4 linked regions of the Homo sapiens genome follow. The protein of the gene in region 1 interacts with the protein of each later gene in a pairwise test. Each region holds a gene or a part of one and is shown in the gene's direction. Other genes may lie near its edges.

Evidence for each region. Proteins that work in one complex are often made in the same cells at the same time.
Region 2: the proteins of GOSR2 (region 1) and MARCHF8 interact in binary tests that used the Homo sapiens proteins (3 or more experiments, as listed by UniProt).
Region 3: the proteins of GOSR2 (region 1) and PELI1 interact in binary tests that used the Homo sapiens proteins (3 or more experiments, as listed by UniProt).
Region 4: the proteins of GOSR2 (region 1) and ARL13B interact in binary tests that used the Homo sapiens proteins (3 or more experiments, as listed by UniProt).

What each region holds. Positions count from the first base shown.
Region 1 is NC_000017.11:46,929,660-46,933,192, forward strand, and holds part of GOSR2 (Golgi SNAP receptor complex member 2), read left to right. Parts: intron 1-1,439; coding exon 1,440-1,548; intron 1,549-2,407; coding exon 2,408-2,540; intron 2,541-3,533. UniProt on the Homo sapiens protein: Involved in transport of proteins from the cis/medial-Golgi to the trans-Golgi network.
Region 2 is NC_000010.11:45,528,843-45,532,375, reverse strand, and holds part of MARCHF8 (E3 ubiquitin-protein ligase MARCHF8), read left to right. Parts: intron 1-3,533. UniProt on the Homo sapiens protein: E3 ubiquitin-protein ligase that plays several important roles in innate immunity and adaptive immunity.
Region 3 is NC_000002.12:64,141,592-64,145,610, reverse strand, and holds the start of PELI1 (E3 ubiquitin-protein ligase pellino homolog 1), read left to right. Parts: upstream 1-1,190; 5' UTR 1,191-1,530; intron 1,531-2,084; exon of another isoform or gene 2,085-2,293; intron 2,294-4,019. UniProt on the Homo sapiens protein: E3 ubiquitin ligase catalyzing the covalent attachment of ubiquitin moieties onto substrate proteins. Involved in the TLR and IL-1 signaling pathways via interaction with the complex containing IRAK kinases and TRAF6.
Region 4 is NC_000003.12:93,986,651-93,990,183, forward strand, and holds part of ARL13B (ADP-ribosylation factor-like protein 13B), read left to right. Parts: intron 1-1,295; exon of another isoform or gene 1,296-2,412; intron 2,413-3,533. UniProt on the Homo sapiens protein: Cilium-specific protein required to control the microtubule-based, ciliary axoneme structure. May act by maintaining the association between IFT subcomplexes A and B. Binds GTP but is not able to hydrolyze fit; the GTPase activity remains unclear.

The sequences.
Region 1 (3,533 bases):
CTCTGCCTTGGGGGCTTAATGATTCAGCGTGGAATGAGTTTTGTTGTTAGGGTGGACAGAAAAACCCTATGGCAAAGTCACTGATTTCCCTGAGTGTGCCCTTTGGAATCCCACAAGTCTTATCCCCCATTACCCCTCCACTCAACCTGACATGGCCCTATGGGAATGGAAGCGCTTGCCTCCATCTATCTTAATCTAATTACCTAGTCCTTAGAGGAATGTACTCCATAAAAATTCAGAGATGTTTAACTGGAATTGGCCATTTCTTCTGAGCTGAGAACTGTGGCTTTTTAGGAGGATTATTCAGAAACGAACAGCAATATTAATTAGTTTAGTTCCCACAGCATGGTTTCTTTTGAGAAGCATGCTGGTTTTTTGTTTTTTTTCATTTTTTTTTTTTTTTTCTATTCTGAGGAAAGGTCCTTTTTCTGAGTTGGTCATATGGACACCACCTGCGGGGGCTGCCTACCCACCCCACTGCTGGGCTCCCTCAGGACCCATTCCTCCTGTTCTCTCATGTCTCCTTTCGCAGCTTCAAAAGCAGCTCTGTTCTTGGTTCTGTGCCCCACCTTGTTCTAATCTCAACTGTCTTTGTTCACTGTGGGCACAAAGGGCTAGGAAGGGGCAGTGTCACTGCTGTCACTTCTTTATGGGGCAAGAAGCAGTCTGGATGCTTTCTTTTGTGCACAGTTTAGCTTCTTTGTTCATCGGACTTTGTTTGCCTTCTCAGCAATCTCATTGTTACATGATTAGAAATGGAAAGAGGTCATTTTGACTGTCTTATCGAAAGGGATAGGGAAAATGACCGTATTTATCGTATCTCTTTACCTCTGTGGATTCTTTCCTGGGCCTTTCCTATTGATATTTGGTTTATTTTGGGGACGTCAACATTGCTCAGCCCACCCATTCTTACAGAAAGCTTTAAGGGAAGAAAGCCTTAAGGGAACTCTTCTCTGTATGTTTCACATACTAATCTTCCCCTTCCTTTATGCTTTTTTTTTTTTAAATAAAAAAAAAAAAACTCATTACTATAGGGAATTCAATTGGCAGCCTTTTTCTAGGTATTTATAATCCACGTCTGAGAATCCCAAAGGAAAAGAGACCTATATCAGAAAATTTAGCTTAAAGTATTTATTTGGACAACCTTTGCATGTTTATTTTCTAAAGGTAGGAAATTTATTTCTACAGATTTACCTTCAGCTTTTTTAAAAAATTGGCATTGTTATGTCATTAACAGCTATATACATGTACTTTTTTCAAAACAACATTTACGGCCTAACTTGAATTTTTTCTGTTATTCATTAGTGTATACATTTTTCTCCTTTTGAAATATGTAGTTCTAGTTTATTGGATATTGAAAAAAAAATCTGTGATTTATCATTGTAATTTAAGTTCACTATCTCTTTTCCAGCAATTATTCTTTTTTCTTTTTTGTACAGTAGTAGAAAACGAAATCCAAGCAAGCATAGACCAGATATTCAGCCGTCTAGAACGTCTGGAGATTTTGTCCAGCAAGGAGCCCCCTAACAAAAGGCAAAATGCCAGACTGTAAGTGCTGACCTCTGACATGGCTCTGATACTCCAGGCCCATCAAGACAGGCTTTTCTCCCTGGGGGAGGTGATAGAATATTCTGAAAACCAACGTACATGTTGAAAAACTATGACTATGCAAAGAAAAAGCCCCCTCAAAGGGCACAATTCTATCTGAGTGATGCCGCTCAAAATAAATAGCCTGTGAGGTTTGTGACTCAGAAACCTTGTGACCCCTTACCTCTTTGGTGTCATTTTGAAATTTTGCCTCCAGTTCTGTTTTTTGACTAGATCCATAGCCACCTGAAGCCTAATGTTGCCATGGAGTTTTGTTCTGCTCTTTGGTTCCTGCTGGGTTCTTCTTGGGTTGAAATGAAAAATCACTTCAATCAGTCCACCCATAATGAAATGCTGATCTAATGTTTGATACTCCAGCATGAAATTAAAATGAAACCACCCTTGCCACCTCCACCCCCAGCGCCTGTTTCCAAAAGTTTTATGAAACTTTGTGGATGCTTTACCTCAAAGATGCCCTTGGGCTTCTTCCAGGAGAGCCATATAATCCATAGAAGGTCAAGAAGAGGTCAGTGAGCCTGCTTCCTGTCCCCTGTTCTCTGTCATGCATCCAGAATCAGAGCAACAGATTCTGAAGTCAAGCTGCTGGAATCTTGTGTGCTACCATCTCACTTTAACCACAAGTTTCTTCTTGACTTTCAACATCGTTGATCAAAATTAGATCTTGTGGTGAGGGGGTATAGTGTGGGGTGGTGTAGGGAGAAGTAAGGAAACGCCGTCTTTCCTCAGTACAAAGCCTGGCCCCCTCAGATTCTGCTGCCCTGAGTTCCTGGAATTTAATCTCTCTCTCCATCAATTCCAGTCGGGTTGACCAGTTAAAGTATGATGTCCAGCACCTGCAGACTGCGCTCAGAAACTTCCAGCATCGGCGCCATGCAAGGGAGCAGCAGGAGAGACAGCGAGAAGAGCTTCTGTCTCGAACCTTCACCACTAACGTAAGCCAGGCCCGTGGTGAGGGTCGGCCTGCACTTGACAGATCGTGGGGGCTGGAGTTCAGATCTCTGAGCGCCATCTGTTTTGGGGGTGTCTGAAGAAGACTGATGATGAGGAAACCAACTGGAAATGACAGGAACTTTGTGCATTGCCACAGAGACTAGACCTAGACAGAGAATCCCTTTTTCTAAGACAAAAACCTGAAGAGGAAGCAGTTAAATTGAAGGGGAATAGGCAGAGGTGAAAATTACCTGGTTGGGCTGGTCTGAGACAGAAAGGTGGAAGTTCACATGGTGGAAACGTTTTTCTGATCAGATAGAGACAGATGATTAGAACTTAGGCCATTTGTAGAGAAGGCAGCATTTCAAAGCTGCCTGCGGGCAGTTGCCATTGTGCCGAGTATGTGTGTGGCTCCAGTGTCAGGTGCATTAAGATGTTTTTGCCCCTAGTCTGAGCAGCAATTTGGAGGAATTTGTTAACAGATGTTTAGGGTTAGATGGACTGCTTGCCTGAGTCTGTCTGAAAGTGTGTTGGTTTGCATGTTTGATTTTTCAGAACCCATTGTCCCTGCCCTTTAGTCTTAACCAGATCATTTCCTGCACATGGCTGTAGAACATACTGGCCTTTTCTGTGTCCTGCATAATATATTCCACTAAATGAAGTGTGCTTTGGCTTTTTGTATTTTGTTTTTTTACAGAGGATTATTTTCTAAAGAGATGTTAGCTTTCTAAGCCAGTTGTTAAAATTCACATCATTTCCTGCTTTGTAGATGTTTAACCCTCAATGCTGCATCCTTGCTTTGCAATAAATTTTCCCAAGTGTTTCAGGCTGTGCCAACATAGTTTTTGCTTCCCCAGACTAAGCAGTCAAGTTACAGTGTTTAACAGTTCAAAAATTTAATGAACTATAAGACACACTAAAAGATGTTTGGATTTTAGATCGTTATAATGTAGTATTCAGGCCTTTTTTAGGCCAAGGATGATCGCTTGGGATTA
Region 2 (3,533 bases), on another chromosome or scaffold:
GTACATGGGGAAGCTATACAAACTTGTTTGGAATAGAAAAAGGAAAATGTCCAACAGTTAGGCCAGGAAGGGAGATTCTTTTTGATATACACCCTCACTGCAGGTTTACTGTAGGTGGTTATTTAATAAAGCCTTATTGAATTTATCTATTTGATGGGATTTTTAAGGTCTAAATAAATAGCATTAATCAATTATTTGTAGAATGGGGATTTTTATTGGTATTGGGAAGAAAGAGAAACCATTCTGTCTTACCTTAGTGTGGGGATGGTTTGAACACCCAGTGGCAGCCTGACAGTTCAGGGTGTCGTGGAGCCCAGATGAGGTGGCAGTAGTGGAAGAGCAGTTGAACCAGGAACTTGCAGGGCCCCGTGAGAGCTTCAGCAGCAATGGCACAGGATGAAAATAGTGGTTGTGTTTCTAGGGTCTCAATTGTGGTATCAGGTTTGATTTGAAAGGTAAATTTTTGTCCAGTGGAGCCCATTTTTATTTATGCAGTTTTTCCTGGCACAGGTTCAACCCAAAATCTTTTGCTATGATTTCTGATCCTCCTGTGCTTGGGAGATATTATTCCTACTGAGTCCCATAAGAAGAGTGAACCCTTGCATTTTACCTAGACTCAAATAATCCACCTGTTTGCTTAGTCTAATCTGTTAACACACCCTCGCTGAAGCCCATAACTTCTACAGAGGGTTAATGACTTTTATACAGTACTCAATACAGTTGATGAATGAATGAATGAGTGAATATGAATTCAGTTTCAGTGATATGGGTCATGTCACTGTGGAGATGATCTTTTATTTCAAATACAGTATGAGAACCTTACAATAGTATACTTTCATTTCTTTCCTTCTGGCCTTTTCATTATTGTCTTTTAATAAATTTTAAACCCTAGAATATATTTAAAAAAATACTTTCTCTTTAAATACTTTTCTTTTAAATAATAATAAAGATCTGTTTACTCAGATAATTACCATTTCTGGTGTATTTCCATCTATCATTTTTCTTTTGTCTAAAGGACTTTAGCATTTCTTATAATGTGAGTTGGCTGACAATGACTTCTTTCAGCTTTATTTAAAAAATATTTTTTATTTGTTTCTTGTATTCTGAAGTTGTGCTTGTGGATCAGTGGGTTTACAATTTTCATAGAATTTGGAGCTTTTTGGCTATTCTTCAGATACTTTTTCTGTCCCCCCATTCTTTCTTTGGGGACTCCAGTATACACATTGACTGGCTTAAAGTTGTCCACTGCTGCACTTTTAATTTTTTAAGGTTATTTTTTCTTTCTGCATTTTATTTTGGATATTCCAATTACTTTGTTTATAATTTCATTAATATTTTCTTTTTCAATATCTAATCTGCCAGTAATTCCGTCTAGTGTGTTTTTCATCTCAGACATGTTTTATCACTAGACATTTGTTTTGGATCTTTTTTATATCTTCCATGTCTCTATGCAACTTTTTTAGTATATGAAATAACAGCTATAATGACAGTTTTAGTCCTCTTTTCTGTCATTGTTGGCATGTGTGACTATTCTGAGTTTGCTTTTCTCCCTCACTTCGGTCAGTTTTATTTTCATTTTTGTTATTATTTTTTACTTATTTTTGAGTACAGATCTTGCTCTGTTGCCCAGGCTAGCATACAGTGGCGTGATCACAGCATACCGCAGCCACGAACTCCTGGGCTCAAATGATCCTCCTGCCTCAACCTCCCAAGTAGCTGGCACTATAGACCATGCCTGGATAAGTTTTTCTTTCATTTTGTAGAGTCGGGGTCTTGCTATTGCCCAGGCTGGTCTCAAACTCCTGGGCTTAAGCAATCCTCCCATCTTGGCCTCCCAAATTGCTGGGACTGCAAGTGTGAGCCACTGCACCTGGCCCAGTTTCATTTTTAAGTAAAAGTTTATTTCAGACTAGTTTTAGATTTACAGAAAAATTGTTAAGCTAGGATGGAGTATTTTCATATACCTGACACCCAGTTTCTCATATTGTTATTATTTATAGATTTAGTACAAGTGCAGTGTTGTTACACCACCTGAATAGTGCACATAAGCACCCATGAGGTAATTTCTCATCCCTCACCCACTCCCATCCTCCCACCTTTCTGAGTCTCCAATGTTATTATTCCACTCTCTATGCCCCTGTGTACATATTTTTCAGCTCCCACCTGTAAGTGAGAATATGTGATATTTGACTTGCTCTTTCTGAGTTATTTCACTTAAGATAGTTACCTCCAGTTCTATCCATGTTGCTACAAAAAAACATGAATTCATTCTTTTTTTATAGCTGAGTAGTATTCCATGATGTGGATTACTTTATCCAATCATCCGTTGATGGGCACTTAGATTGATTTTATGTCTTTGCTATTGTGAGTAGTCCTGCAATAAATATTTGAGTACAGGTATCTTTTTGATATAATGATTTCTTTCCCTTTGCGTAGATCCCCAGTAGTGGGATCACTGGATCAAATGGTATTTCTATTAGTTCTTTGAGAAGTCTCCATATTGTTTTCCATAGCAGCTGTACTAGTTTACACTCCCAACAACAGTCTGTGAGCATTCCCTTTTATCTGCATCCTTGCCAACATCTGTTATTGATTTTTTTGACACCTGAGTAATAGCCATTCTGACTGGTGTGAAATGGTATTTCATCGCTTTTATTTGCATTTCTAACTTTTTAAATGTTTCTTGGCCATTTGTATGTCATCTTTTGCAAAATATGTGTTCATGCCCTTTGCCCATTTTTTAAAAAGGTTATTTTTTTCTTGTTGAGTTCTTTGTAGAGTCTACAAATTAGCTTTTTGTAAGATGCATAGTCTGCAGATATTTTCTCCTGTTCTGTAGATTGTCTGTTTTCTCTGTTGATTATTTATTTGCTGTGTAGAAGCTTTTTATTTTAATTAAGTCCCATTTGTCTATTTTCATTTTTGTAGCTTTCCTTTTGAGGTCCTAGGCATGAATTCTTTGCCTTAGGCCAATGTCCAGAAGAGTTTTTCCTAGGTTTTCTTCTAGAATCTTTATAGTTTCAGATCTTTCAGGTCTTTATACTTTCAGGTCTTTAATCCATCTTAAGTTGATTTTTGTATATGGTGAGAGATATGGGTCCAGTGTCATTCTACTGTATATGGTTACCCAATTCTCCCAAGTATCATGTATAGAATAGGGTGTTCTTCCACTAGTGTATGTTTTTGTTGACTTTGAAGAAGATCATTTGCCTGTAGGCATGTGTCTTTAATTTGGGTTCTGTAAGCTGTTTCATTGACCTGTGTGTCTCTTTTTATAATAGTTTTGGTTGTTATAGCCTTATAGTACAATTTGAAGTCAAGTAATTTGATGCCTCAAGTATTGTTCTTTTTGCTTACCATTGCTTTGGCCATTCAGGCTCTTTTCTGGTTCCTTGGGTATTTTAGGATTGTTTTTTCTAATATTGTGAAAAACAATGTTAGTATTTTTATAGGAATTGCATCTGCAGATTTCTTTGAGTAGTATGGTCATTTTAATGATACTGATTCTTCTAACCCATGATCATGTTTGTGTC
Region 3 (4,019 bases), on another chromosome or scaffold:
GCTCAAAACAGTGCCTAGCACAAGTAGACACTCAACAAGCATTTTTTGAATGAGTGTATAATTATATAGTCTGTAGATATAAGGATTTCTGATCTTGAGACTCTCTGAAAGCCTTGCTCCAAAAGTGTGTCTGATTCCTAAGCATTAATCTTTTTCTTCCAGGGTGTGGGGTTCTAGGTAGGTGGAGAAGGAAAACAAAAGCGCTCAGGACGCGTTGCCTTTAGCTCTCCGGAGAGCCAGTAATGTGTCCTGCCTTTCTCCACCCTCCTCCCTACCACCTTTCCACACCTGGGTGCCCAAGATGGGTGTAGACTTAGCTGACCAGCCCAACAACATACTCATACCTTGGTTCAGACTTCTCTTATTACCAAACTAAAGTTGGCCAATACACATAAACAATTTTCAACTTGTCTTTTGAACGTATACTTTATGAAATTTGTATGTCTTAAAAATTGTAGGCCTTAAAATGAACGAACCCGGATTCTTTTATAGTAATCAAGTAAAATATAGGGGTCTTAATTCTGTACTTTGCCTTTGCTAATCTTAAAGTTAGATGTGACTAACTGAGCAAAGTAATTAATTACGGGACTTTGATAGTGGTGATATTCCTAAGTTTTATAACCTAATTGTTCAATTACTGGAAACAACTACATTTCGACAAGTCTTAGGTAAAGAAAATTGAATTTAGCCGGAGAAGATTCAATTGAGGGAAGTGAGGGACAGAGGTATTTGTGATTTAGGGTTTGTGGAAGATAAATTACGCAGCAGGGAAGACTGAAATATGGAGAGAAAGTCAGACCTCACTGGGTACTTATGACTGGTAAGGCTAGGAGTTGGAGGTGGAGAAAAGTAGGAAGGACCGTCTAAGGGTTGGATCCCCAACAACACCATAATACAAGACCGTCCTTGTTCAGCCAACAGCAGCACTGAACACGTTCGCTAAGTGTGTCGGTGACCATGGTAACGGTGGGAGGGGGCGGTCCAAACCTCGCCCTCGAGCATGCTCAGTGCAGAGCGAGCCTGGTAGGGTGCTGGACAACAATGAATCCCTTTTTTCTTCAACCGGAGAACTACAATTCCCAAGAGCCTTCTCGGTGCGGCGACACCGCCTTCCGCTGTGGCCCTGCCCGGTCCCCTCCCTCAGGCCCCGCCCCCCGGCTAGACCCCTCCCCTCCTTGCGAGTGTATGTCAGTGACCCAGAGGCGGTGTGAGGCGGAGGGACCGTCGGGGGGCGCCGCCGCCGCCTCCACTAGCAGCAGCGGCAGCAGCCCTAGTCCCGCGGTGCGGTCGAATTGGTCCCCAGCCCTCCGGGAGCGCACCACAAAGCAGCCCCAACGCCTCTCCCTGCGTCCGCGGCTCCTCAGCGCTCGGCTCCGTGGTCAACTTCCCCTCGCTGGGCTCGGCTGGCGGGCGCGGAGGGCAGCGGCGGAACGGCGGGCTGTCTGCTCGCGCTCCCCGCGCACAACACTTCACCCTCTCGCCTCGGGTCTCGGGGGCCGCTCTGGGATCCCGGCCACCAGCAATTGTCCGGTAAGTGTGACCGCGGGGCGCCGCGGGATGGATGGCGGCGGGGCCGCCGAGGGGCGCGGGGAGGGCGGGCGCGCAACTTCCTCGGCGGCTTCCCCGGCGGCCAGCAGCCGGCTCTCCCCGCCCGCCTGCGCGCCCCCGCTGCGGCGGGGAGCGGAGTTTGCGGCGCCTGCATCCCGCGCCCTGGCTCGAGGAAGCGCCTTTGTCAGGAACCGGCCCTACGCGGCCTCCCCCTCCGCCCGGGAGCGGGGCGCGCGGCGGCCAACTCCGAGCCCCGCGCCTGGCTGGCCGCGCGCTCCGGCTGCGAGAGGGGAGCTCTGCGGGTGGCGGGGAGGAGAGGGAAATGGGAGAAACAAAAGGGGCGGTGGGTTTCCCTTTTGTTTGTGCGGATCTGATAACTTCTTTTCCTCCCTTACATAACGCAGACTTCAAGTTAGTCATTCTTTTTATTGTTATGATTGTTGTCATCATCTCTGCGCGTCTTTCACATTTCCTTTCATCTTTGGATCTCAGAGCATTTTAAACACGCTAATTAATTTCACCCCCGGGTCCCCTAGGAAACAAGTTAATACGCCCGTTTCCCTAAGTGGGTAAACTGAGGTCGTGAAAAGCTCTCAAATTGATGGATACGCTTGATCTTCTACCGCGCCTCGTGTCTGAGTATATGAAAGCGTTTATGAGGAAGAACCCGTTCTCCAAAGCCCCGTGGAAAAGTTAAAGATGCTCATTTTACTTACAGGTTAACTGAAGTCCAAAAGATGTCTAGGTAATTGTTACGTAGTTCAAACCATAATTCTTCTTACATAGTGTTTGAATCTTAAAACCTCTAAAGACTTAGTGAAAAATGCTCCGAGTAGGGAAATTAATGTAAATCATAAACTCACGTCACCATCTACTTTTATTTTTGTACGTGCAGGTCTGTTAGAGGCAAGAGAGCAAGAAGGGGACAGAGGGCAGAGGTTTTTTAAAAATGTACATTTAACAGATTTTAATCACTACACACAAGGAAATGTGCCTTGGTTTTAACAGCACCAACAATATTCCTGTCGTTTAGTCATCAAACAGTATATCAACAAATGTTATTGAGAACTTTATTCATAAGGTGCTGGTTGTGCTAAAAACTGAAGCTTTATATATAAGAAAAGGTCATCTGTTTCGGTTCACAGGCTCTTTACTTTTTCTTACTCTGCAAAATGTTACTTTGTTTTCATTGCACATGATCTTTTGTTTCAGAAATGGCATTGTCCTTTACTGTGTCGAATATGTATTACTCTTACACTTAAGGATAAATGAATTTATTATTAAGTTTTCATAATAGGGTGAATTTAAAATATTTTAATTGTGGTAAAGGTTCACTTTATTCAGTTCTGTTTCAGTTTACGATGCGTTTTCTTTATAGCCAACAAAATATTTTCTGAGTGATAAGATTTACATGTCTCAAAACATTGTTCTTAGTGTACAAATACAGCATATGAATTCCTTGTTTTTTTTATTTATACCAACAACCTCTTCTGGGGAAAAGTCTTTAACTCTGAGGACCTTATTTATTTTGTGAGTTTTTATTTCTTCGGTACCATACTGGAAAGCACCAAAAATTTAAACCAAGCATCACTTCTACTAGCTCTTTCCTCAGGTAAATAATAATCAGAACTGTAGTAATAGTGAATAGTTTCACTTACTCTAAATTCTCTTAAATTTAATTTTGTACTATATAGTTGTCCTTACATTTTAGATTTTGGTGGTTGCATCAGAAAATGAAAGTGAGATGTTCGTTATTTTATTTTTTTTCCCAAAGCCTTCTAACCTGTTCCCTTTCTATAGTATGTTAAAAGAGATCTTGAGTTTAAAATAAATAATTGGAAAGTAGAACAGTTATATGTATGGAAAGTTGCATGTAGTGAAGTGGTTATAGTGTCTCATGTAGTGAATGTACAGGTTTTAAAGAGGAAACTATCACCTAGCTTTTTATTAGCATGGTAGAAGTGCTGTAATGTAATAGTAGTAGTATTTATTTGCTTCTAAAAAGTAAGCTGGAAATTTGCCTCAGTGGAATTTGTAGGGGGAGGGAATCCATTCTTTCCTTAAGATTGGCATTTAAATGTTCTTACAGTTGGTTATGTTGAACTTTTTCTGTGGTATTTTCAAGCCAGATTTACCAGGAACATTTGTACTTCAAGGAAGCTACTAACACTGTCTTGGCTCAGTCACTGGAATCCACAGGCAGAAGTTAGTGTTGACTGGCAAAGTCTGGCTTTGCAGGTTTCATAATTTCTTTGAGACCCCTTAAAGGAAATGACTGAAAAGTACGGGGTAGGAAGTTAGTCTAGTACTGCCAAATGCCACTGAGGCAAGTTTCAAAGGGGAAGCCAAAGGATGTTTCCATTTGATTTAAGTTCAGCCTCTTCTGGGTTGTCAGAATGTCACTTTTGTATTTTAAGAGTTCTATCATTTCAGAATATGATGTATTATGGTTTTCTAGTAGGTCAGGTGGT
Region 4 (3,533 bases), on another chromosome or scaffold:
TGCATAATATTTTTGAAGTTAGAAACAGCTTTTATGGGCCAGGCATGATGGCTCGCACCTGTAATCCCTGCACTTTGGGTGGCCGTGGTGGATGGATCAGTTGAGGTCAGGAGTTCGAGATGAGCCTGGCCAACATAGTGAAACCCTGTCTCTACTAAAAATACAAAAAATTAGCCAGGCATGGTGGCAGACTCCTGTAATCCCAGCTACTTGGGAGGCTGAGGCAGGAGAATTGCTTGCACCCAGGAGGCAGAGGTTGCAGTGAGTGGAGATCTCGCCACTGCACACTCCAGCCTGGGTGACAGAATGAGACTCCGTCTCTAAAAAAAAAGGAATAGCTTTTATCTAATTATCATATTGAAAGTATTGTCTTCCTTAGTTAAAAGATGAGGAAGTTTAGACTTGTAGGTGTTCAAATGATTGTGATAATGTCATTCAGGAAAGATTCAGAATTTAAATGTTTTCTAAGTTCAATCCTCCCTAATGCCATGATGCTTATATTTCTGATTTTTTTTTTTTTTAAATAGAGACAGGATCTCACCATATTGCCCAGGTTGGTCTCAAACTCCTGGGCTCAAACAGTCCTCCTGTCTTGGCCTCCCAAAGTACTGGGATTACAGGCATAAGCCATTGTGCCTGACCAGTATTTCTGATATATTAATTTGTATATCCGTTATATAAAAAGGAATTCTGAGATAAGATATTCTCATATTCTCACTTAGGAGATCTATTATATACATTGTGTTGACTTGAACAATATTAATTATTAGCTTCTGGAGTATGGAAGTCTTCACTTGTTTCGGCAGATAGCTAAAGTGATGTAAAACAGACCTTTGGATCCCTTAATCTCTACCTTTGATTTTTTTTTGTTTTTACTAAGAATTATTTCAGTTTTTTCTTTTGTAATGGAGATTTTATTTGTCGTGTTGAGAATAAGTATACAGACATTTCAAATTGTACACAATTCTTAACATACATACCAAAAATCTAGAAAACCTCTATTGTAATTCCTTTTTCTGAAACGGTCTCTCTCTATTGCCTAGGCTGGAGTGCAGAGGAGTGATCACGGCTCACTGCAGCCTTGACTGCCCGGGCTCAACCGATCCTCCCACTTCAGCCTCCCAAGTAACTGGGAGGTGCATGCCACGATGCCTGGCTAATTTTTTTTTTTAATTTGTAGAGACAAGGTCTCACCATGTTGACCAGGCATGTCTCAATCTCCTGGGCTCAAGTAATTCTCCCACCTTGGCCACCCAAAGTGCTGTGATTATAGGTGTGAACCACTGCACCCGGCCTCTTTTTTAAATAGTTATTATAGTGACATTCCAACTTAACATTTGGAGGCAAATTTTTCTTAAGAGGATTATCAAGAGCCAGTATCTACAAGTGTTTGATAAGCTGTACACGTTCTACCAATTCACAGTTTAATAGCATGTACACTATATACCCAAATTTTCAATCTTTCACAGCACATTAACACAGTTATTAGGAAATCAGGACTTCTGTGACCAAAGATGTTATAGTGTACACAGTTCTGACAGGGAGAGCCATGATCAAGGAGTGGTTTTCTTTAGGAAACAATTCTGTGAAAAAAAAAAAAAAACATGGCAATAGAAGTAATTTAAAATGTTCAAGACATTAAATGCAGGATTCTGACTCTGTATTGCCATTTAGTATATTTTGTATTACAGTATATAAAAACTAAGCCCCCATCTGTGGAATGTTAAGCTGACATCCAAGACAGTCAAAACTTCCTGTAATTCAATATCCCATACTATTCTCTGGTTTCACCAAAAAATAAACAACCAGAGAATTATTTCACCTCAGAAAAAACTTAACAATGGAATGAGGTGGGAGTTCCTGCTACTTAAAATGTTTCTAGAGCTACTAAAAGACTTGCACTTACAAAGCAGTTGATAAAAATACCCTGGATTGTACAAGAAGGGAGACAGGGACTACTGATAAGACATGGTATATGATATTAATCAGACTTGGCTTCTTTCTCTCCTGCTTCATCAAAGGTTGGAGTCTCCTCGGTTTTAGTTTCTTCGTTTTCTGCAGGTAAATCTTATTTAGTTTCTTGGTTAGCCACTTTGGCCTGTTTTCCCTATGCTCCCCTTTTCCCATTTGTTTGCATTTTTTTTTTTTTTTTAATCTGAAGATTTAGCCTTTCCTGATGCCTCTTTGGCTTCATTTCCACTTTTGCAGGAGCAGGTTTAGCTGACAAGTGCGCAGATCTCCTCTTGGGCTCTTGCTTCGCCACCCCTTCGGCTGAACTGACCTTCCTCTTGGGCATCTTGGCGGCAGGAGGGGCACTTGCTGGGCACCTGTGGGCCACGGAGCTGAGAGCCTTCGCGAAGCTGGGCTGCCTGGCTACTGGCACTCCTCCCGCTGCCCGAGCTGCTGAGACCCCTATTTCAGTTTTGAAAGTCTTTCTGTTAATTAGTACCTTGAAACCATGAGCATGTAAGCTTTTTCAGAAAACTTCAGCCAATTTGATATATATGGATATAATTACATTCTTTAATATGAACTATTTTGATGTGAAGATTTATATAAATTAGCTTCATTATAGTACTTTCTCAATCTAAAGTTATGTATTTTAATTTTACTTAGTATTTACTCAGCAAATGGGGTTCAGAAAATGTTTGTTGTTTCTTTCAGTAAAGAAGCCTACTGTGTGCCCAACACATTTGATACAGGCACTACAGAGCTGATAAAGAGAAGTTCTGGTAGAGGAGCCTGTATAAAAAGTAGCCGGGGATGGTTGTGAAGGGCTGAAGGAGTACTCGGCATGGAAGGAATCCTCGGCATGGCAGGCTTCCTGGGAGTGGCAGAAGTGGGGGCTGCCAAATTGAGACTTGATTCTCTATAAGGATTTTAAGCAGAAAAATGCTATGGTTAATTTTTTTTTTTTTTTTTAAACAGCCTCATGCTGTCAACCCAGGCTAGACTGCAGTGGCATGATCCCAGCTCATTGAAACCTTATTTAATTTTCATTATATCCCTTTAGAGTAGCTATTGTTATTATCCTATTTCATTCATGAAATTCTGAAAAGTAATGTGCCATATAGCTTAGAAATGGCAAATCTGGCACTTGAACTCAGGTCTCTAACACCAAATTTGTGGCTACATTTCAGAGTACCCATAATACCTCTTATGTTACTTATTACTAGTATAACATACTGTAAATCTTATAATACTACAGAGTCCTTTGTATCTCAGCCTTTCTAGTAATCAAAGACCCAGGGATGACTATAATATTAGGAGTAAGCGGCTCACTTTCAACTTCTGGAAAGGTTACATCATTAATTATTTGATAATACAGTTTGAGTATCTCTTTTTTTTGTTTTGTTTTGTTTTGTTTTGTTTGAGACGAAGTCTCCCTCTGTCGCCCAGGCTGGAGTGCAATGGCACGATCTCAGCTCACGGCAACCTCCACCTCCTGGGTTCAAGTGATTCTCCTGTCTCAGCCTTCTGAGTAGCTGGGATTGCAGGTGGGCGCCACCAAGCCTGGCTAATTTTTTTTGTAT